Regions from separate parts of the Homo sapiens genome. Here region 1 is linked to region 2. The links come from fine-mapping of genetic effects on gene expression. A gene starts in region 2. The other region holds a variant in brackets. All regions are shown on one strand. Distances are between the middles of the regions.

What was found.
Region 1: its variant is fine-mapped to the expression of UBIAD1 in testis (GTEx, PIP above 0.99).

Annotation. Positions count from the first base shown.
Region 1 is chr1:11,287,744-11,299,955 of GRCh38, reverse strand. UBIAD1 (UbiA prenyltransferase domain containing 1) reads right to left here. Exons shown (of 2, transcript NM_013319.3): 2 at 11,522-12,212. Among named protein-coding and RNA genes, the nearest start is that of UBIAD1, 21 kb to the right of the region's middle. RefSeq lists a silencer at 10,615-10,797. The variant G/A (reference allele first, on the strand shown) is at 6,451.
Region 2 is chr1:11,266,978-11,277,123 of GRCh38, reverse strand. It overlaps UBIAD1 (UbiA prenyltransferase domain containing 1), which reads right to left and starts at 3,926. Exons shown (of 2, transcript NM_013319.3): 1 at 3,064-3,926. The coding sequence starts at 3,592. RefSeq lists enhancers at 3,658-3,707, 3,798-3,967 and silencers at 3,968-4,017, 4,078-4,347.

The DNA.
Region 1 (12,212 bases), 22 kb before region 2:
GGCATGGTGGCACGCACCTGTAGTCCCAGCTACTCGGGAGGCTGAGGCAGGAGAATCACTTAAACCTGGGAGGCAGAGGTTGCAGTGAGCTGAGATCGTGCCACTGCACTCCAGCTTGGGCAACAGAGAGACTCTGTCTCAAAAAAAAAAAAAAAAATCCATCAAACTGTGAAGACCCCTGAGACCCTGTCTCTGATGGAGCCCCTCAATCCTACCTCTTCCCCCTCTTCTCCAACATCCAAGGCCACCAGCATGACAAGCCGGCCACATGCCTGGGCAGCTCAGAGGAGCCATGGGAAGGGTTAAGGGAAGGAAAGGCAAGGAGGAGAGGCCGGAAAGAGGGTGGGAGATGAAGACAATAACAAAAGAGGCAGCTGTGAGTCTTTCAACATTTTAAAAGAGATTGAAATTGAAAACGAGAATTATAAAAGGCAACCGATCACGCTTTGCTCCCCCCTTCAAAAGAAAGAAGTGTTGAAAATGAAAAAGACTGTTAACCAAATGAGTGCTGCTTTTAGAGTTGGAAGAGAACCAGTCCAGGCCATGTGTGGTGCTCCTGTGCGGTGGTTGTGATCCCGAGCAAGTCACTGAACCACTCAGCCCATGAAACAAGCCGAGCATGCACCTCTCAGGGCCATAGGGAGGCCAGCGTGAGAAAAGCACGGAGAAAGCTTCAGTGAACCCCAAGTTGCTGCCCGGATCCAGCGTCTGGTGGCTCTCACTGTGACTGTGGTTAGGCGGCCTTGACATGTTGCTGTCATGCCCGCCACTGAGAGAAACAAGGGAATGAGTATCAAGGATGACCCAGGGCAGGCAGTGGGGTTTCCAGGGCAGGGCCTCTCCTGGGGAAGCCCATCTTCTCCCACCTCTCATGCAGTGAGATTGGCTGCAGCCACTGTGATGGCCTAGGGCATGGATTACACCGTGCTCTGCCCTGCTTGACTGACTTGGTTATCTTCGCTCCTCACCATCCCCTCCCTGTTCCTTCTTGGAAATGGAATGGCTCTTCTCAGCACAGCCACCCAGCCCCTGCACCCAGCCTCTGTGCCAAGCTGGCAGGATAACGAATGGCTCCACCTCCTCCTCGCCTCCGTCAGGAGGGGCTCTGAGCAACCCTCTGCTCACAGCCCTCTGTGGTTTCCCCTTATCCTCCTTGGAGCTGCATGGAGACTGCTTGTCTAGACATTGAGATGGCTTTACCAGGTGTCGCTCACTGCATTGGGTTCCCTTCACGTTCAGCACCTACTGAATACCCAGGATAATAACTGCACCACTGCGGGGTGCAGGAGGTGTCCCCAAATGTCCATAAGTGTACACACATATGTGCACACATGCACATGGGAAACTTTTATTTATTTATTTATTTATTTATTTATTTATTTATTTTTGGAGACAGGGTCTCATTCTGTCACCCAGGCTGGAGTGCAATGGCACAATCTCAGCTCACTGCAACCTCCACCTCCCAGGTTTAAGTGATTCTCCTGCCTCAGCCTCCGGAGTAGCTGGGATTACAATATGTGCCACCATGCCCGGCTAATTTTTGTATTTTTAGTAGAGATGGGTTTTTGCCACATTGGCCAGGCTGGTCTCAAACACTTGACCTCAGGTGATTCACCTGCCTCGGTCTCCCAAAGTGCTGGGATTACAGGCATAAGCCACTGTGTCTGGCCCAATTTTTTAAAATATAATAACAACTCTGGTGGGGAGCAATGGCTCATGCCTGTAATCCCAACACTTTGGGAGGCCAGAGTGGGTGGATCACTTGAGGTCAGGAGTTTGAGACCAGCCTGACCAACATGGTGAAACCCTTCTCTACTAAAAATACAAAATTAGCTGGGCATGGTGGTGCATGCTGTAATCCCAGCTATTCGGGAGGCTGAGGCAGGATAATCGCTTGAACCCAGAAGATGGAGGTGGCAGTGAGCCGAGATCGTGCCACTGCACTTCAGCCTGGGCAACAAGAGCAAAACTTCGTCTCAAAAAAAAAACAAAAAAACAAAAAACAATAATAGTAAAAGTAATAGTAACAACTCTGGTAAAACAGACATCAGATGTTTTCCAGTTTTCTTCCCTTGTTGAATGAACCTGGACTGCAGCCCAAGGGGATGTTATCTTTCCCTTGTACCTAGAGATTCCTAAAGCCTCTCTGAAGGACAGGCCACTCACAGCCACATGTAAGACCACCTGTCTCTCCATCCAGGACTTCTTCAGCGCATTCTCAACTGTCAAGCCTCCAGGGCTGTGAAGCATTCGAATGAGAAGTCACCTTGACAATCTTTGACCCCAAGGCCAAGACCCCAACTTTTTCATAGTCACCCCACCAGGATTCTGATCTCAGCACAGCCAGGCTTGGCTCTCCTGACAGAAGGGCTGCAGATGGGTCATCCTTTGGTTTCTGCATGGAACTTATCCTGGTGCCAGGGCAGAGCCCCTCGGAATCACCAAATGGACACCCCCACCCCCATACACAGAGTGCCATTCAGGCTACTATAGCAAAATACCATTAAACTAGATGGCTTATACACAACAGAAATGTCTCACAGGTCTGGGGGCTGAGAAGTCCAAAACCAAGGCAGATTTGGTTTGGTGAAGGCCACTTTCTGGTTCATAGATAGTGCCTTCCAGCTGTGTCCTCCCATGGAGGAAGGAGCAAGGCAGCTCCCTGGGGTCTCTTTGATCAGGGCACTAATACTCTACCCATGAGGACTCTACTCTCGTGACCTAATCACCTCCCAAAGTTGCCACCTCCTAATACAATCATGTTGGGGATTAGGCTTCAACATAGGATTCAACATTAGGATTCAACATGAATCTGGGAGGATACAACATTCAAACCACAGCAGAGAGTTTCACAATGAATAGTTGTTTCTTTTCTATCTCCCTTACTATCATATAAGCTCTGGGAGCATAGAGATCTGGTCTTGTTCATTTTCTATGTTTAGTTTTAATACAGTTCCTGGTACTTATCAGGTGCTCAATACATGTTTGTTGAATGAATGAATGAATGTACCAGGCACTGTGCTGAGTACTGGGAAGAACATGGACCCTCAGCCATGGGCCCTCTGCCTTGGTAGGAAAGTCTAAGATTACACAAAAAACAACATTCTAAAATAGTCATCCATAAGAAAGGAAAGGGGGCTGGAAGCAGTGGCTCAGGCTTGTAATCCCAGCACTTTGGGAGGCTGAGGCGGGCGGATTGCTTTAGCCTAAGAGCTGGAGACCAGCCTGGGCAACATGGTGAAATCTTGTCTCTATAAAAAATACAAAAATTAGCTGGGCATGGTGGTGCAAGCCTGTAGTCCAAGCTACTCTGGAGGCTGAGGTGGGAAGATCACCTGAGCCCAGGGAGGTTGAGGCTGCAGTAAGCCATGATTGTGCTACTGCACTCCACCCTGGGCTACAGAGTGAGATCCTGTCTCAAAACAAAGGGGGGGACAGGGGGAACTCACTTTATGAAGTGCCTACTACTCACCAGGCACATGCTAAGTACTCTGTGAGCACTACCTCATTTAAACCCAAAATTACCCTACAGGGCAAATCCTATCATCCTCCTTTGCAGAGGAGGCACCGGAAGCTCAAAGAGGTTATGTAGCTTGTCTGAGGGTATCCCGGGGGTGAGTGATCGAGCCTGGACTTCTACCCACCCAGTGCTGCCAGACTCGAAAGCCCAAACTCTTTCCACTTCACCAGTCAAGCTCCAGGAGTGATATAAGGTGTGCCTGTTTGTCTGTCTGTCCTCTGGAGAGTGTAAGTTTCCTGAGGACAGGGATAAGGTCTCATTTACCATGATACCTCCCAGAGCTTAGCAAGTGCCTGTAACATAATACTTGTTCAATAAATTGACTGGTCTTGCAGCCACCTGCAGATGGCATCAGAGGAGATCTAGTCATAGATAGTGAATTGATCGCAGTCTGGAACAATGGGGCATGGAGAAGTTCATCTCTTCTGCCCTCATTTCCCCACAGCCTTTATGCCTCTATGTCTCACACATGGCTGTGAGTGGCCTGTCCTTCAGAGGGGCTTTAAGGATCTCTAGGGACAAGTGTCTATGTTGACACTTGAGGTGGCAGGATAATGTATGCATGTAGCTTTTGCTATTAGTTCACTGTGTGTCCTCAAAGGGCAGGGGTGTGCCTCGTTTATCTTGCCTCCTGGGACAGAGCAGGCTCTCAGTAAAGGTCTTTGGCCAAGGCAAGTGTCAGCTGGAAGGCCCTCATTGGTGACCATGGTGACCTCTGACCCCCTCAGCACTTCCCCTGAATCTGAGGGCCTCCCACCTGGTATTCCCTTGGCCTCAATGTGGCCCAGGGCTGAGGGGCTCCCCTGACTCGCAGGAGACTTGGGCTCAGCGCTCCTGCTTCACGGGATGCTTTCCCTGGCCTTGTCTCTCCAGGCCATTCATCTTGATTAGGTATTGGCAGCTGTGGATGATTAAATGCCCCGCCATTCTCTCTTGTTTGTTTCTCAGCAAGGAAGTGTCGGAGTTTTCATTCTGCAGAAGGCTTTGACCTTGGCAGTGGTCAGAGTGCCCTTGGCACACCTGCCTCAATGCTCCAGTTGTCTAACTGCACAGCCAAAAGAGGCTGATTAAGGAAAACTTCGAGTCTTACTCTCTCAGGCAGCAACAGGGGGGCTTTCTCCAGCTGGGGGAATTGAGCTGTCCATCAGCACCTCGGTTTCCATGGAACAGTCACCTCTTATGGCCACCTCTTCCTAGAAACCTTGATCGCCGCTCATTGTCACCTCTTCCTGGAAGCCTTCCTGATACCCAGCAGCCCCATCTCTACCTTGATGTTCTGTGGTCGTTGTTTATTCTATGGTTCACGTGTGTCAACTTCCTCTCCCTCCACACAGCACACTGAACCCGAAGAGTTGAGTATCCTGTGTCCTGAACATGCATACAATTGTCAGCTCCAGATGCTGCCCACCCCGAGGCAGGAAGGGGCTCACTTCCCTCTCCTCGAAGGTGGCCAGCCCCATTCTCAGGAGGCAGGTCTAGAAGGCAGGTCACTAGGCAGTTTCTGGGAGCTTGAGCACTGGCTGCTCCTGATGTGGGCACTCTGCTTCAGTGGCTAGATGAGGACTGGAAGAGACGAGACGAATGAGGACAGACAGATGAGGGGACAGGAGCATAAATTTAACCTGAGACTGAACCTTCGCCTCCATCATCGTGGGTAGGCAGGAGCCACTCTCCATTATCTGGGGATGGGCAGACTTTGACTTGTAACTTTCGCCCAGCCAGCCAGAGTAGGTTAGACCAACAAGCTTAGTTACTATCCCCACAGAGCTGGCCCCTGGGGGTGTTGGTAGGAATGCCACCAGCCAGGAAGCAGCCATCCCACCCTGATGGGAACCACCTCTGTGGCACTGGCACATGGGCCACCTCTGTAGGCCTATAGCTGGCCCCAACACTCACACACTTGGGAGCGGCTAAGGGCAGACCAATGGATTGAGTCCCTTACAAGCAAGGAACTGCAGGGCAAGAGAGATGAGGGGCAGTTTGTAGTGAAGGCTGGGTGTGGTGGCTCACACCTGTAGTCCCAACGCTTTGGGAGGCCAAGGTAAGACTGCTTGAGGCCAGGAGTTTGAGACCAGCCTGGCCAACATAATGAGACCCTGTCTCAATTTTTTAATTAAAAATAATAATAATAAAAGAACTTGCACTGAATTAGAGCAAGATTTGAATCATGGTTCTATCACTTACTAGCCAGATGACCCTAGACAAGTTTAATAATCTCCCTGAACCTCAGTTTCCTCTCTTATGAAAAAGAGACCTTAATATCCAATTCGTGGGGTTGTTATGAGCACTAAAAGAATGTATTTAAGCATCAGAACAGTGCCTGGTCCATAGTGAGCATTCAACAAATGACAGCTTTATTACTGCCATTCCCTCGGCCAGTCATCCAACGTTTATTTATTTAGAGACTTCTACGTGCCAGGAATATGAGCTGGATCTTAAAAGCTCTTAAGAGTACTGCCATGGGGCCAGGCACAGTGGCTCATGCCTGTAATCCAAGCACTTTGGGAGGCTGAGGCAGGTGGATCACCTGAGATCAGTTCGAAACCAGCCTGGCCAACATGGTGAAATCCCGTTTCTACTACAAATACAAAAATTAGCTGGGCATGGTGGTGGGTGCCTGTAATCCCAGCTGCTTGGGAGGCTGAGGCAGGAGAATCGCTTGAACTCAGGAGGCAGAGGTTGCAGCGAGCCGAGATCGTGCCATTGCACTCCAGCCTGGGTGACAAGAGCAAAACTCCATCTCAAAATAATAATAATAATAAGTTACTGCCATGGTTCTCCTCTACTCCCAACCCCAAGTGGAACTCACCTGTCCTTACTGACAGCTGATGTGATGCAGTGGTCCAAACTCTCACACCTGTCAGTCAGCCCTGGAGGGCCCAGCCCTTCCCATGTAACTCAGTCATTCAACAACCAGTTACTGACTGCCT[G/A]CTCTGTTGCACCATGCACTGTGCTAGTGCTGAGATGGGCTGGAAAAGAAAACATGGTCCTTATACTCTAGTCCTACCACTTACTGGGAGAAATTGACAATAAACATGTTGGCAAAATAATAGGTGAGTAACACATGCTATGCTTTTGTCTTCCCTGTTAAACCCATTTGTGATCCTAATGGGAGGCAATTCTAAGCCAAGCTGGGGGAGACAGGGGCCAGGATATGGCAGGACCGTGGGAGTGCGGAATTTGGAGGACCCCTTGAATCACACCACACAGAGCCCTGCCCCTTGGGATCCCTTAACATCATAGAAGCGCCCAGACCAACTTGTGATACCCCACTCAGCCTGGTTGGGAGCATGTGATCAAAGCCCTCACTGTTCCTCCCAGAGCTCCAGCATCTTCTGAAGTGAGTCTGTGCCTTGCAATTACAGCCTTTCCCTGACCCCAGGAAGCCGTTTGCAAGCCTCCTGATGAGCCCAGACTCAGCCTTTGCCCCCTCCTCAGGCAGGAACCCAACTTGGTTTATACCACCATTTGCCATCCTAGCTTAGTCACTCACAGTGGGAGGGCTGTCCCAGTTTGAAGAAGGGCAGGTCACAAATGTCAACTGGCTGGAACCCAAGTGCCAGGTTCTTGCCAGAGGCATTCCTTTTACACCAGCCTGCACAGTCTGGAGCCCATAATGAAAGAGGCTGACAGTCCATTAGCAGCAGAGTGGTCCGCAGGGCTCAGAGAGGAGCTGTCATCCCTCTCACTTCAAGGGCTTTCGAGGTGAAATCAACTCTGTGAGTGTGTGTGTGTGTGTGTGTGTGTGTGTGTGTGTGTGTGTGTGTATACATAAAATCTTTTAAAAAAAGAATATCAATCACAGCTGTTCCTGTTAAGATGGCCAGACAGTCAACAGTCTGACATCAAGAAGAAATGTCAACACGGCTCTTGTACTCTGTCCTCCCAACCCGTGGGGCAGGTCTGAAAGACTATCCCGTAATAACAGAACAACTGAATCACAGGATTGGAAGACCCTTAGAGGTCTTCTCATCCAACGCCTCTCTGATGCGACTCTTCACACCCATGTTCCTGACGAGGAATCATCTTTTCGCTTGAATGCCTCTAGTCACAAGGAACTCACCCCCAACTGAGACATTCTGAACATCCCCCTCGCTGATTCCTCTAATGGCTAAGAAACCTTCCTGATCTGGCCAGGTGTGGTGGCTCAAGCCTGTAATCCCAGTACTTTGGGAGGCCGAGGCAGGTGGATCACCTGAGGTCAGGAGTTCAAAACCAGCCTGGCCAACATGGTGAAACCCCATCTATACTAAAAACACAAAAATTAGCTGGACATGGTGGCACACACCTGTTAATCCCAGCTACTCAGGAGGCTGAGGCAGGAGAATCGCTTGAACCCTGGAGGCAGAGGTTGCAGCGAGCTGAGATTGCACCATTGCACTCCAGCCTGGGCGACAAGAGCGAAACTCCGTCTCAAAAAAAAAAAGAAAAAAGAAAGAATGAAAGAAACCTTCCTGAGCTAAGAGCTTCAACTTGGGGACATATAACTTCTACCCATTAGTCCTAGTTTTACCCTTTGAAGCCACACGCAAAAAAAAGTTTTAAAAAAAAAAGTCCAACCCGTCTTCCCGAAGACAGCCTTCTTGTGACTCTCCTTTCCAGGCTGACATGGCTTTATGTGCCCCCACCCATCTGCCAACCGCATTCAGGACAAGATCCACTTTGTTGATAACATCTTCAAAGTGTGGTTCTTACACTGAGAAATGGAAATCTCTACTGCAGCCGTTACCAATGCAAACACACACGCGTGCACACACATGCATATAGAAAGCAAGCTCCTGTAATTGTCTTTTCATCCATTCCATATTTCTTTTTTTTTTTTTTTTTTTGAGATGAAGTCTCGCTCTGTCACCCAGGCTGGAGTGCAGTGGCACGATCTTAGCTGACTGCAATCTCTGCCTCCCGGGTTCAGGTAGTTCTCCTGCCTCAGCCTCCCGAGTCGCTGGGATTACAGTTGTGCACCACCACGCCCAGCTAATTTTTGTATTTTTGTAGAGACAGGGTTTTGCCATATTGGCCAGGCTGGCCTAGAACTCCTGAACTCAAGTGATCCACCCACCTTGACCTCCCAAAGTGCTGGGATAACAGGCATGAGCCACCGTGATTGGCCCCATTCCATATTTCATAGCATGTTGTCAAATGCCTTGCTGAAATCCAAGTATATTATATCCACAGCATGTTCTTGATCTCTCACCACACTGATTCTATTAATATCTAGAGAAAAGAAAGAAGGCAAGAAAGTGCCCAGGACTGGCCCCAGCCCAGCATGAGAAGAATGACAGGGATGGGCAGAATTTCTGCCTTCCTTATTCTGGACGCTAATTCTCCTGTTAATTCTAGCTCAGATCATATTAAATTCTAGCTCAGATCATATTAATCTGCATGGAAGTTGGAGCTCATTACTGACTCAGACTAAGCTTTGGCCCAGGTCAAAGGCTCAGGTGTTGGTTATTTTATTTATTTGTTTATTTAGGAGACACAGTCTTGCTCTGTTGTCCAGGCTGGAGTGCAGTGGCGTGATCTCGGCTCACTGCAACCTCCGCTTCCTGGGTTCAAGAGATTCTGCCACCTCAGCCTCCCAAGTAGCTGGGATTACAGGTGCTAATTTTTGTATTTCTTTGTAAAGACAGGGTTTCACCATGTTGGCCAGGCTGGTCTTGAATTCCTGACCTCAAGTGATCCACCCATCTCGGTCTCCCAAAGTGCTGGGATTACAGGCGTAAGCCACCACACCTGGCCTGGTGGTTTTAATACAGGAGTAACGGAAGCGTTAGTAAGACAACATAGGATATATTCATATCTTTTCCCACCCGACTCCAGAAGTCAGCACCAAGCTTCCAAAGGTGCCCTGAGTGGGATTCAGCACAAAGGTCCTGCAAAGCGTAGAGAAGAAGGGAAATGCTTTGAGTAGGGGAGGTGGATGGAGCATTATCATAGGTAGAGTGGTAGTGCTCCAAGACTGGGCAGAAATGTGACTGGAGTAGCAGGATCTGTGCCCCACTGGCACTTGTCACCAGGAAGGGGCTTTATGAACCCTTCTAGAGGAGCAGTGTCCAAGACAAGGGCAGATTCCAGGGCCAAACCCCAGCATCCAGTAGCAGAGAGGTGACCTTACAGATGGTAAGCAAAAATCCCTGGCTCTGGCCCCACAGAGGCCAGGAGTTCTGGGTGATCCCAGACATTTGGGAGGGTGCTCAAGAGGTAGCTGGCATTGAATTTTCAGCCACCTGCCTGGGGAGCAGAATAAATCTGACTCCAAGAAATAAAGGCAGCCAGGCACGGGGGCTCACGCCTGTAATCTCAGCACTTTGGGAGGCCCAGATGGGTAGATAGCCTGAGGTCAGGATTTCGAGACCAGCCTGGCCAACATGGTAAAACCCCGTCTCTACTAAAAATACAAAAATTATGCCAGGTGCGGTGGCTCACACCTGTAATCCCAGCACTTTGGGAGGCCAAGGCGGGTGAATCTCAAGGTCAGGAGTTTGAGACCAGCCTGGCCAACATGGTGAAACCCCTTCTCTACTAAAAATACAAAAAATTAGCTGGGCATAGTGGCGGGTGCCTGTAATGCCAGCTACTCAGGAGGCTAAGGTGGGAGAATCGCTTGAACCCAGGAAGCAGAGGTTGCAGTGAGCCGAGATTGCGCCACTGCACTCTAGCCCGTGCGACAGAGTGAGATATATATAAAACATATATATACAAAAATTAGCTAGGTGTGGTGGTACGTGCCTGTAATCCCAGCTACTGGGGAGGCTGAGGCAGGAGAATGGCTTTGAATCCGGGAGGCAGAGGTTGCAGTGAGCCGAGATCACGCCACTCCATTCTAGCCCAGGCGACACTGAGACATAGTCTCAAAAAAAATAATAAATAAATAAATAAAGACAAGTGATGTCAGATTCCAGTCACTGAGAAAACTCATACCCCCCTATCTCCATGGCTGTCACATCATGGCTCTCCCCCTCTCTGATGTTTATGCTGTTGATTTTGGGACCTTAGTGTATTGCTTTGTATTTATTCACACTACATTTTTCTTTTGACCCATCAAAGCAGCCTTTTGATTTATGAGGCTCCTAATTGTCATTTTGTAAGCTCTTCCTCCAAGGTTCATGAAACCTTTCATTTTGGCTGCCTCATCCGCGTCATTAATAACAGGTGTTGAATCCAGCGGAGCAAAGGGCAGAGGACAGGGCTCCAACTGCTACTAAGGGCTCCTTCCCAGCTGCCACTGACATGCTGATCAGTTAGCTCTCTCCCACCGCCTGCTCAGTCTCTCAGGAATTTATCTAACTCCACTGTTATCCATCCCACGTCTCTCTGCCTTGTTCATAGGATATATTGTCCAATGCCTAGCTGAAACCCACATGTACTCAATCTACCTCATGTTCTCCATCTAGCAGCACAGTGACCCTATCAAGAAAAAGAAAAATGAAACGAGGTTAATCTGGCCTGACTGCTGACTGGCTCTTGGCAAATCCACTGTAGCTACATGCAGCCCTCAACGTTTTTTGTTTTGTTTTTTTTTTTGAGACAGTGTCTCGCTCTGTCGCCCAGGCGGATGTGCAGTGGCGTGATCATACCTCACTGCAGCCTCGACCTGCTAGGTTCAAGCGATCCTTCCACCTCAGCCTCCTGAGTAGCTGAGACTACAGGCATGCACCACCACGCCCAGCTAACTTTTTAAAATTTTTTTTGTAGAGATGGGGTCTTACTACGTTACTTAGGCTGGTCTCAAACTCCTGGGCTCAAGCAATCCTCTCACCTTGGCCTCACAAATTACTGTGATTACAAGCGTGAGCCACCATGCCCAGTCCCTGCTGCCTTTTCTAAAGGCCTGTCGAATCTGGTCAAACCCTACCCAAACTCATCACCAAAGACCAGGTGCCCCTCTGCACAGCCTGAATGTCCAATGTCACTGCCTTGGTCTCCCTGAGATTTACAAATCAGAGTTCACAATCAGACAGTAAGTATGAGGAAAGCAAAAACCAGAAGCCAGACCATTGGTGAACATTTTCTTTCTTCTCTTTTTAATTAAGAAGTCTAAAGAAAACCTTCATTGACTCAGGGAACATAATACAAATTATGGTGACCTGCGTATAAAACCTGGCAACAAATTTGGCCTTTGGGAACATTTATATATAAAAATATGCATTAAAATCCGCACCAGGGCACAGTGCAGAACTGATAGCCCCGATGGGAGTGACCACCAAGGCATACGTGGTCCGTGGACGCAGGGAGCCCTTGGTCCTCCTGCCTCAGGGTGAGCCCTGCATGAGAATGGCCTACTCCAAGGAGAGGTCAGAAGGCAAAACCCCTGTGAGCACCAAAATGCCACAAGCCTGGTGTGAAACAAAAATGGTGCTGGGAAGGACTGGGGAGAAGGTCATCTTTCTTCCCCTTGTCTCTGGGCTCTGCCCACTATTAGAAGATTCTGGCTCTCTGCTAGACAAACCACCTTTGATTTAACTTTAGAGGAACTTTTGCAATTTTCTTTTTCTTTTTTTTTTTTTGAGACGGAGTCTTGCTGTGTCCCCCAGGTTGGAGTGCAGTGGCATGATCTCAGCTCACTGCAAGCTCCGCCTCCTGGGTTCACGCCATGCTCCTGCCTCAGCCGCCCAGGTAGCTGGGACTACAGGCGCCCGCCAACACGCCTGGCTAATTTTTTGTATTTTTAGTAGAAACGGGGTTTCACCGT
Region 2 (10,146 bases):
CTGGGACTACAGGCATGCACCACCATGCCCAGCTTATTTTTGTATTTTTAGTAGAGATGGGGTTTCACCATGCTGGCCAGGCTGGTCTCGAACTCCTGAACTCAGGTGATCTGCCTGCCTCAGCCTCCCAAAGTGTTGGGATTATGGGTAAAAACTACCACATCCAGCACAAATGTGTTAATTTTTGAAGTGGTGTGGGTGCTGACTACTAGTAGTATGAAAAATATGTTCAGGATTGTTTTGATACCTATCTTATAATAAAAAATGTTGGGGGGGAGTTGATGAATTTCTGTTAAAAGCTGTTCATGTGTGTTACACGTAACAGACATGGTAAATATTTGCTTACAGTTTTTTTTTTTTAACAAACTATGCACTTAAGGTTAAGTGACATCAACAAAAAAGGGATACATATATGGAGATATAATTTTGAAACTAAAGTTGGTCTTTTTTTTTTTTTTTTGAGATGGAGCCTCTCTCTGTTGCCCAGGCTGGAATGCAGTGGCATGATCTCAGCTCACTGCAACCTCTGCCTACTGGGCTCAAGCAATCCTCCTGCCTCAGCCTCCCGAGTAGCTAGGACTACAGGCACATGCCACCACGCCTGGCTAATTTTTGTATTTTTAGTACAGACAAGGTTTCACCATGTTGGCCAGGCTGGTCTGGAACTCCTGATCTCAAGTGATCCACTTGCCTTGGCCTCCCGAAGTGCTGAGATTACAGGCATGAGGCACAGCACCCAGCCCAAAGTTAGTCTGAAAATGTAAATAAAATGTGGAATGTGTCCAAGAAAAAAAAAAACCTTTGAGTTATGCTTAATTCCTCTGTTTCTCTTTACCTCACATCCAATCCATCAGCAAACCCTGTCTACCTTCAAAGCATATTTAGAATCTGGCTACTTACCTCTTCCACTACCACCCGCTAGATACAAGCCACCAAACATCGCTTGCCTGGATTATTCAAGAGCTTCCTACTTGGTCTTCCTGCCTCTACCCTTGCCCCACTCCCCTTGATCCATTCTCAATACCTTACCCAGAGCAATTCTTTTAAAACATTATATTACATCACTCCCTTGCTCAAAGTCCTGCAGTGGCTCCTCCATTCCAGAGCCAAGACCAGTGGCCTACAAGGTCTATATAATCCGTGTGTGTGCCTCCTTACCCTCCCCAAACGTACTTCTCTTACTTTACCTCTCTTTACTCTCTCCTTCATTCACACACTGGACTTCTTGCTGCTCTGTAAGCTCTTTGGACACATTCCTGCCTGAAGGCCTATGGCACTTGCTGTTGCTTTTCCTGAAATGCTCCTCTCTCAGATATCTGCTTGGCCAACTCCCTCACCTCTTACCTCCTTCAATGTAACTCAACTCAAATACTACCTTTCTGAGGCATGGTCTCACTCTGTCGCCCAGGCTGGAGTGCAGTGGTGTGATCAGGACTCACTGCAGCCTTGACCCCTGGGCTCAAGCAATTCTCCCGCCTCAGCCTCCAAAGTAGCTGGGACCACAGGCAAGCACCACCATGCCCAGCTAATATTTTTTATTTTATATTTTATACAGACAGGGGTCTATGTTGCCCAGGCTGGTGTTTAACTCCTGGCCTCAAGCGATCCTCTCGCTTCAGCCTCCCAAAGGGCTGGGATTACAGACATGAGCCACTGCACTCAGCCAAATGTTACCTTTTTGATGAAGCCTACCCTGATCAAACTACTTAAAATAGTAATCTGTGTCCCATTCTTTGCTCTACTTTTTTTTCCCATAGCACTTATCATCTTTCATATACTATAATCAGGGTGATCAATTCAACCTGACTTACCAGGAACTTTTCTGGTTTTAGCTCCAGAAGTCGCACATCCGACTTAGTCCTGTCACCTTAGTCCTGAGCAAACCAGGATATTGGTCACCCTAACTATAATTTTCTATTTTTACTTTCTGTCTCTTTTCATGATAATACGTAAGTTTCACAAGGGCAGGGATCTGTGACTGCTGTGTTCACACAGAACAGTGCCTGGCACATAATAGGTGCTCAATAAATAGGGCTTACCCACCTGCCCATCACTACCTTAATCAGCCTCTTGCAAGAAGTCACCTAGCAAACTAGCTAGAAGTAATTATCTATATCATTTTGAACTCTTCAGATTTAATTCTAATATTTGAAACTGTGGCATTATAAAGTATGAGTGATTAAAAAAAAAAATGAGACAGAAAAAATGTCCATATAGGCCGGGCATGGTGGCTCACGCCTGTAATCCCAGCACTTTGGGAGGGCAAGACAGGCAGGTCATGAGGTCAGGAGTTCAAGACCAGCCTGGCCAACATGGTGAAACCTTGTCTCTACTAAAAATACAAAAATTAGCCAGGCGTGGTGGCACATGCCTGTAGTCCCAGCTACTCGGGGAGCTGAGGCAGAAGAATCGCTTGAAGCCGGGAGACAGAGGTTGCAGTAAGCCGAGATGGTGCCACTGCACCCTTGCCTGGGCAACAGAGCGAGACTCTGTCTCAAAAAAAATAAAAAAAATTAAAAAATGTCCTGACAGGGCGCGGTGGCTCACGCCTGTAATCTTAGAACTTTGGGAGGCTGAGGCGGGTGGATCACGAGGTCAGGAAATCGAGACCATCCTGGCCAACATGGTGACACCCCGTCTCTAATAAAAATACAAAAATCAGCCAGGCGTGGTGGCGTGCACCTGTAGTCCCAGCTACTCGGGAGGCTGAGGCAGGAGAATCGCTTGAACACGGGAGGCAGAGGCTGCAGTGGGCCGAGATCGCACCACTGCACTCCAGCCTGGGCGACAGAGCGAGACTCCGTCTCAAAAATGAATACATAAAAAATAAATAAAAATAAATGTCCATATAAAATTTTCAGTCATGCCCTACGTCCGTAAGTCAAACCAGGATCTTCTCAAATCACTGTTTCAAAAAATTCACATCACCCACAATTATAGACTTCAATTAAAGCGGCTTAAATTAGAAAGCCACCTTTGACATCCCTATAACTCCTTTACAAAGCAGCGGTTTCCAGTGGACGCGACTAAGACCTGCAGCACACAGGACAGGCCAAATCTTACCTCCTGTGTAGAGAAAGGAGCCAGACAGGCCTCCAAAGTAGATAAGAGCCAAGTGCTCCAGTTTCAGAGGGGACAGGTAGTAGAGGCAAGCGGCACAGACGCAGCCCAACGTGTAGAGGAAGACTCCGAACCGGACGACATCCTGCGGCTCCAAGATTCGGTCCACAAGTGTCCTGTCATCACTCTTTTTGTGGTCAATGCCCTTGGAAAAGTCATAGTAAGTGTTGACCAAATTACCGGCCCCGTGCACAGCCAGGACAGCCACGGCACAACCCACCAAGAGCCTGGGATCCAGGACACCGTGGGATCTGTAGGCAAGGGCACTGCCCAGGGCCACCGGTGTGAGTGAGGCACTGAAGCTCCAGGGCCTCAGGGCCAACACGTAGGAGGCACACTTCTGCCTCCAGGAGCGCTGGGGGAGCCTATCTTGCTCGGGACAGTCGTTCCCCAGCGGGTCCCTGTCCCCAGCTTTGACAGTCTCTCCCGACAGGATGTTAATCTTCTCCCCCAGGACCTGAGAGGCCGCCATGGAAGCTCCACGTGGTTGAAGTAAACTCTAAAAGTGAGCCACGCACAGTGACCGCCCGGGAAGGAGGAAGGACGGGGCGGGGCAGCAGGGCCCGACCTTCCTTCGGTTCCGCCCCAGGACAGGGCTGGTGTGGCGGCAAGGTCCGGGGGCAACAGCAAGTGGGTCTTACACCCCACGAGGCCAAGCGGCGCCGCCCCTACTACCCGTCACCTGGGCGAAGTCTGTCTCCGGCCCCCAGCCCCGCGTTAGAGCCCACGGCTGAGCCGCGGCCGCCTTCTTTAGGCCGCCAGAGCCGCCATCTTGTGCGCCGGCCTCTGGAGGCCCGCCCGGAAACAGGTGCCGGCGGCGCGGGCTGGACCGGAGGGTGGGCTGGAGGGCGGGAGGGGGCGGGGCCGAGCCAGAGGCGGGGAGAAGGGCGGTGAGGGGTGGGGGGCGGGGGCCTGGTCAGAGGCGGGGCGGGCAGGGCCGAGTCAGAGGAGGGGCGGGGTCAGAGGCGGGGAGAAGGGCGGTGAGGGGTGGGGCGGGGCTGAGGGGCGGGGCCAGACCGGTGGTGGGGCGGGAGGGGGCGGGGCCGGGGCGGGAATGGACCGGGAGCGGGGACGGGCCAGGAGCTGGGGCCGGGCGGTGACCCGGCATCCAGCCCTTTTCCTGCCTGCACTGCGCCCCGCAGCTACTTCCAGACTAACTGCAATCAGCCTCTCTTAGCATCATAAGAACTCGAAGGCGTGTTGCTTTAGGACTTACCGGGCGCACTTTCATTCACGAAGTAGGATTCATTAATTTATTCATGCTACAAGCATTTATTGAGCGCCTGCTGTGTGCATACATTCTGACGTCTATCATATCTGCACCGTGGAAATACTCTATGATGTGCTACTGCTCACCTCTTATCAGCTTTTCATTCAGTGACATCCTTCAGCAGCTTGAAATCTGCCCATGGTGGGAGAATTTACACCACGCAAATCAGCAAATGCTTAATAACTGCTAAGTCGTCTAGACTTAAGAAAGTGGCGGAGAAAATGTTCATATTACTGGTTAAACTTAAAAGTGTTGGAGGGTGCGGTGGCTCACGCCTGTAATCCCAGCACTTTGGAAGGCCGAGGCAGGCGGATCACTTGATGTCAGGAGTTCGACATCAGCCTGGCCAACATAGCGAAACCCTGTCTCTACTAAAAATACAAAAATTAGCCGTGCGTGGTGGCAGGCACCTGTAATCCCAGCTACTCGGGAGGCTGGGGCAGGAGAATTGCTTGAACCCGGGAGATGGAGGTTGCAGTGAGCCAAGATCATGCCAATGGGCTCCAGCCTGGGCAACAGAGTGAGACTCCATCTCAAAAAAAAAAAAAAAATTAGCCGGGGGTGGTGGTGCATTCCTGTAATCACAGCTACTCGGGAGGCTGAGGCAGGAGAATTGCTTGAACCCTGGAGGCAGAGGCTGCAGTGAGCCAAGATCACGCCACTGCACTCCAGCCTGGGCAGTAGAGCGAGACTCCGTCTCAAAAAAGAAAAAAAAGAGAGAAAAAAAGTGTGTAAGTGAATGCACCAAAACTTTGAGGAAATATTCGTTCAGCATTGGCAAATTATTATCCAGTTGAACAAATAAGTCGCTTGTAGCCTTGACAAACTAGTGAAGTTCTGACATATCTCTTTTGATTGTTTCACTTTCCTCTTACTCCTAACATAAAATATCAACCAACATTCATGTCTGAACTATGCTCATTGATCAATTGGGACCATAGGGAAGCTACACAACATCAAAGAAAGCATACTGTGAGAACTGGCTATATGGAGTTTACAATAGAGTCCTGTACTGTATATTTTAGTATTTGTAAACTGTATGCTACACATCATTTACATCAGTGAAATTATAATACACATGCAACATAGATGCACACAGGACTGACTACATAATTTGTGGTACCCAGTGCAAACTAAAGAGGTGGAGCTGGGGGTGATAATGTGTGCCTGTAGTCCCAGCTACTCAGGAGGTTTTTTTGAGACGGAGTCTTGCTCTGTTGCCCAGGCTGGGGTGCAGTGACACAATCTCGGCTCACTGCAAGCTCCGCCTCCAGGGTTCACACCATTCTCCTGCCTCAGCCTCCCGAGTAGCTGTGACTACAGGCGCCCGCCACCACGCCCGGCTAATTATTTTGTATTTTTAGTAGAGACAAGGTTTTACCGTGTCAGCCAGGATGGTCTCTATCTCCTGACCTCGTGATCCGCCTGCCTCAGCCTCCCAAAGTACTGGGATTACAGGTGTGAGCCACCGCACCCGGCGGGAGGATCTCTTGAGCTCAGGTTAGAGACCAGCCTGGGCAACAAAGTGAGATCTCCGCTCTAAAAAATTAAAAAGACCAGATGTGGTGGCTCACACCTGTAATCCCAACACTTTGGGAGGACAAGGCAGGTGGATCGCTTGAGCCCAGGAGAAGACCAGCCTGGACCACACGGTAAAAATCGAAGAATTAGCCAGGTGTGGGCCAGGTGCAGTGGCCCACGCCTGTAATCCCAGCACTTTGGAAGGCCGAGGCGGGCAGATCATGGGGTCAGGAGATAAGACCATTCTGGCTAACATGGTGAAACACCATGTCTACTAAAAATACAAAAAAATTAGCCAGGCGTGGTGGCAGGCACCTGTAGTCCCAGCTACTTGGGAGGCTGAGGCAAGAGAATGGCATGAACCCCGGAGGCGGAGCTTGCAGTGAGCCGAGATCGTGCCACTGCACTCCAGCCTGGGCGACAGAGCAAGACTCCATCTCAAAAAAAAAAAAAAAGAAAAAGAAAAAGTAAAAGAATTAGCCAGGCGTGGCAGTGTGCACCCGTGGTCCCAGCTACTTGGGAGGCTGAGGCGGAAGAATCACCTGAGCCTGGGAAGTTGAGGCTGCAGTGAGTCATGATTGTGCCCCTGCACTCCAGCCTGGGTAATAGAGTGAGATCCTATCTCAAAAAAATAAAATAAAATCAATAAATAAGTGGGGCCAGGCCAGGCACGGTGGCTCACGCCTGTAATTCCAGCACTTTGGGAGGCCAAGGTGGTCAGATGACCTGAGGTTGGGAGTTCAAGACCAGCCTGACCAACATGGAGAAACCCCGTCTCTACTAAAAATACAAAATCATCCGGGAGTGGTGGCGCATGCCTGTAATCCCAGCTACTCAGGAGGCTGAGGCAGGAGAATCACTTGAACCCGGGAGGTGGAGGTTGCGGTGAGCCGAGATCGTGCCATTGCACTCCAGCCTGGACAATAAGAGCAAAACTCCATCTCAAAAAAAATAATTAATTAATTTAAAAAATAAAAAAAATAAGTGGGGCCTCTTGTTCAAAATCATTAACAATTGCAAAACAGAGCATGACACAGCTGTGAAGCTAGCTCTGTACATGTCTGCTTCCACTTACCCCCAATCTGGTTGTTGAACATTACAACTTCACCACTCAACACAGAGCTTTCTATGCTGGCCAAACCCATGAGTCATACAATGTCAAATCAGACAATATATCAGCAGATAGATTAAAATCCTGGCTCTATCACTTACCAATTCCATGTCCCAATATCTCTGTTCTTTGGCTTACTTATATATAAGGTGGGAACAATACAACCTGCCTCATAGAAATGCTCAGGAATAATAGTAAACAGCATTTATTGACTTTTCACATGAGCCATATACTTTGTTTGCTTTTGAGACGGAGTCTTGCTCTGTCGCCCAGGCTGGAGTGCAGTGGTGCGATCTCGGCTCACTGTAACCTCCACCTCCCAGGTTCAAGTGATTCTCCTCCTCAGCCTCCTGAGTAACTGGGATTACAGGCGTCTGCCACCATGCTCAGCTAATTTTTATATTTTTAGTAGAGATAGGGTTTTACCAAGCTGATCTCGAACTCCTGACCTCAGGTGATCCACCTGCCTTGGCCTCCCAAAGTGCTGGGATTACAGGTGTGAGCCACCATGCTGGGCCAAGTACCTCTTTTAGGTACTTTACGTGTGGTATTAGCGTTTAACCCCCACAATACTGCCTACCAACGAAGAGACTATAATCCTTCCAGTTTTACACATAAGGAAATAGGTACAAAGTGTTGCAGCCAAATTTCAGATTCAGTTAGTTTGACTTGACTCCAAGCTGCTTTTAACAAGTACTCTATAATGTCCACCAAAATCCCTGATACACTGTAAGTGCTCAATAAATATTAGCTATTATTTTAGTGTAATGCATAAGAAAGTTCTTTGTAGTGGGAGTTGAACAATGAGAACACATGGACACGGGGAGGGGAACATCACACACCGGGGCCTGTTGGGGGTTGGGGGGCTGGGGGAGGGATAGCGTTAGGAGAAATACCTAATGTAAATGACAAGTTGATGGGTGCAGCAAACCAACACGGCACATGTATACCTATGTAACAAATCTGCACGTTGTGCACATGTACCCTAGAACTTGAAGTATAATAATAAAATAAAAAGACTTGCAAAAATACAATAAAAAAGAAAGTTCTTTGTAAACAGAAAAGAAACCGACAAACGCACTTATTACTGTTGCTATAAAATCATCTTTGATTATTAATTAGAAAACAGGGCTGTATCATATCTCAGGGTGGCAAAAATCTCCTATATGGCTGATGGGAATAAAAATTGGTACCTCCCTTATAGAGATCAACTTGACAAGATTCAACAAAACTGTCTAACCCTGTAATCCCATTTCTGGGAATTTATCTTGATATAGCTGTCAGGGAAGAAAATGATATACGTACAAAGGCATTCACTGCAGCATTTGTAATAGCACAAATTTGGACATAACACAAATGTCCATTCACAGAGGACTGGAAAATGAACTATGGCACAGCCATGTGATAGAACACTATGCAGCTGTAGCAACAACAAAAGGACAAGAAACTCTGTGTGTACCAAGATGGAAATGAAACCGTCCCAACAAACTTTATAAAATTAATCAGGGGCCAGGTGCGGTGGCTCACACCTGTAATCCCAGCACTTTGGGAGGCCAAGGCAGGCTGATCACTTGAGGTCAGGAGTTCGAGACCAGCCTGGCCAACATTGTGAAACCCCGTCTCTACTAAAAATACAAAAATTAGGCTGGACACAGTGGCTCACACCTGTAATCCTAGCACTTTGCGAGGCTGAGGCAGGCAGATTACCTGAGGTCAGGAGTTCAAGACCAGCCTGGCCAACATGGTGAAACTTTGTCTTTACTAAAAATACAAAAAATTAGCCGGGTACAGTGGGGTGCGCCTATAATCCCAGCTACTCTGCCGAGGTGCACACCTGTAATCCCAGCTACTCTGGAGGCTGAGGCAGGAGAATTGCTTGAACCTGGGAGGCAGAGGTTGCAGTGAGCTGAGATCACGCCACTGCACTCTAGCCTGGGCTACAGAGCGAGACTTGGTCTCAAAAAAAAAAAAAAAGTACAAAAATTAGCTGGCATGGTGGCGCACACCTGTAATCCCAGCCACTCGGGAGGCTGAGGCAGGAGAATCGTTTGAACCCGGGAGGTGGAGGTTGCGGTGAACTGAGATCACACCACTGCACTCCGAGTGAGACTCCATCTCAAAATAAAATAAAATAAATCAGGGAGGAAGGGAGGGAGAGAAATGAAAATAAACAAAGCTTGCAGCACATTCAGCATTCATCATGAGGTCATGTTGAACTCTGAGCCATTTCCTCATAGTTGTTTGCTGCCTACTGTCCCAGAATCATGCGGACCCTGTCATCAGACAACTTAAGCTTGCAAAACATTGTTTTCCACCTGAGGTATTCTTTCAGGTCCTGCATATCAGTGAAACTACTGATGACAGCCATTGTGAAAGACCCCACAGGGAGCTAACTCACCAAAGAATGCAGTTTCTACATCCTGATGATTTCACCCCCTTTACCCCAACCCATAAACGATACCAAATTTCCAGCCTCTCCCCCTCTACAATCCCCTTAAAAACCCCAGCTCAGGCCGGGCACGGTGGCTCACTCCTGTAATCCCAGCACTTTGGGAGGCCGAGGTGGGCAGATCAAGAGGTCAGGAGTTTGAGACCAGCCTGACCAACACGGTGAAACCGTGTCTCTACTAGAAATACAAAAATTAGCCGGGTATGGTGGCACACACCTATAATCCCAGCTACTCAAAAGGCTGAGGCACAAGAATTGCTTGAACCTGGGAGGCAGAGGTGGCAGTGAGCTGAGATCCTGCCACTGCACTCCAGCCTGGGCAACAGAGCGAGACTCTGTCTCAAGAAAAAACAAAACAAACAAACAAACAAACAAACCCAGCTCAGAATTCCTTGGGGAGATGGATTTGAAGGTCTCCTCCTGTTACAGTAGATAGCTAGTCAGGCATGAGCAGAGCAGGAGAGGCCCCCACCCCCTAACCCCAGGAATGTCAAGCAACCATTGGGTGATGGTCAGGCAGTTGTTAAGCTATCTCGCTAAAATAATAATTGATTGCAGCTGGTGCCAGAGAAAGGCAGTCTCCCAAAAGATAGAAACACCTGAAACTGGTGATCAGCAGCTTCCCATAAGATCTCAGGAGCTGGGCGAGTAGGCTCAAGCATGGGCACTAAGAGG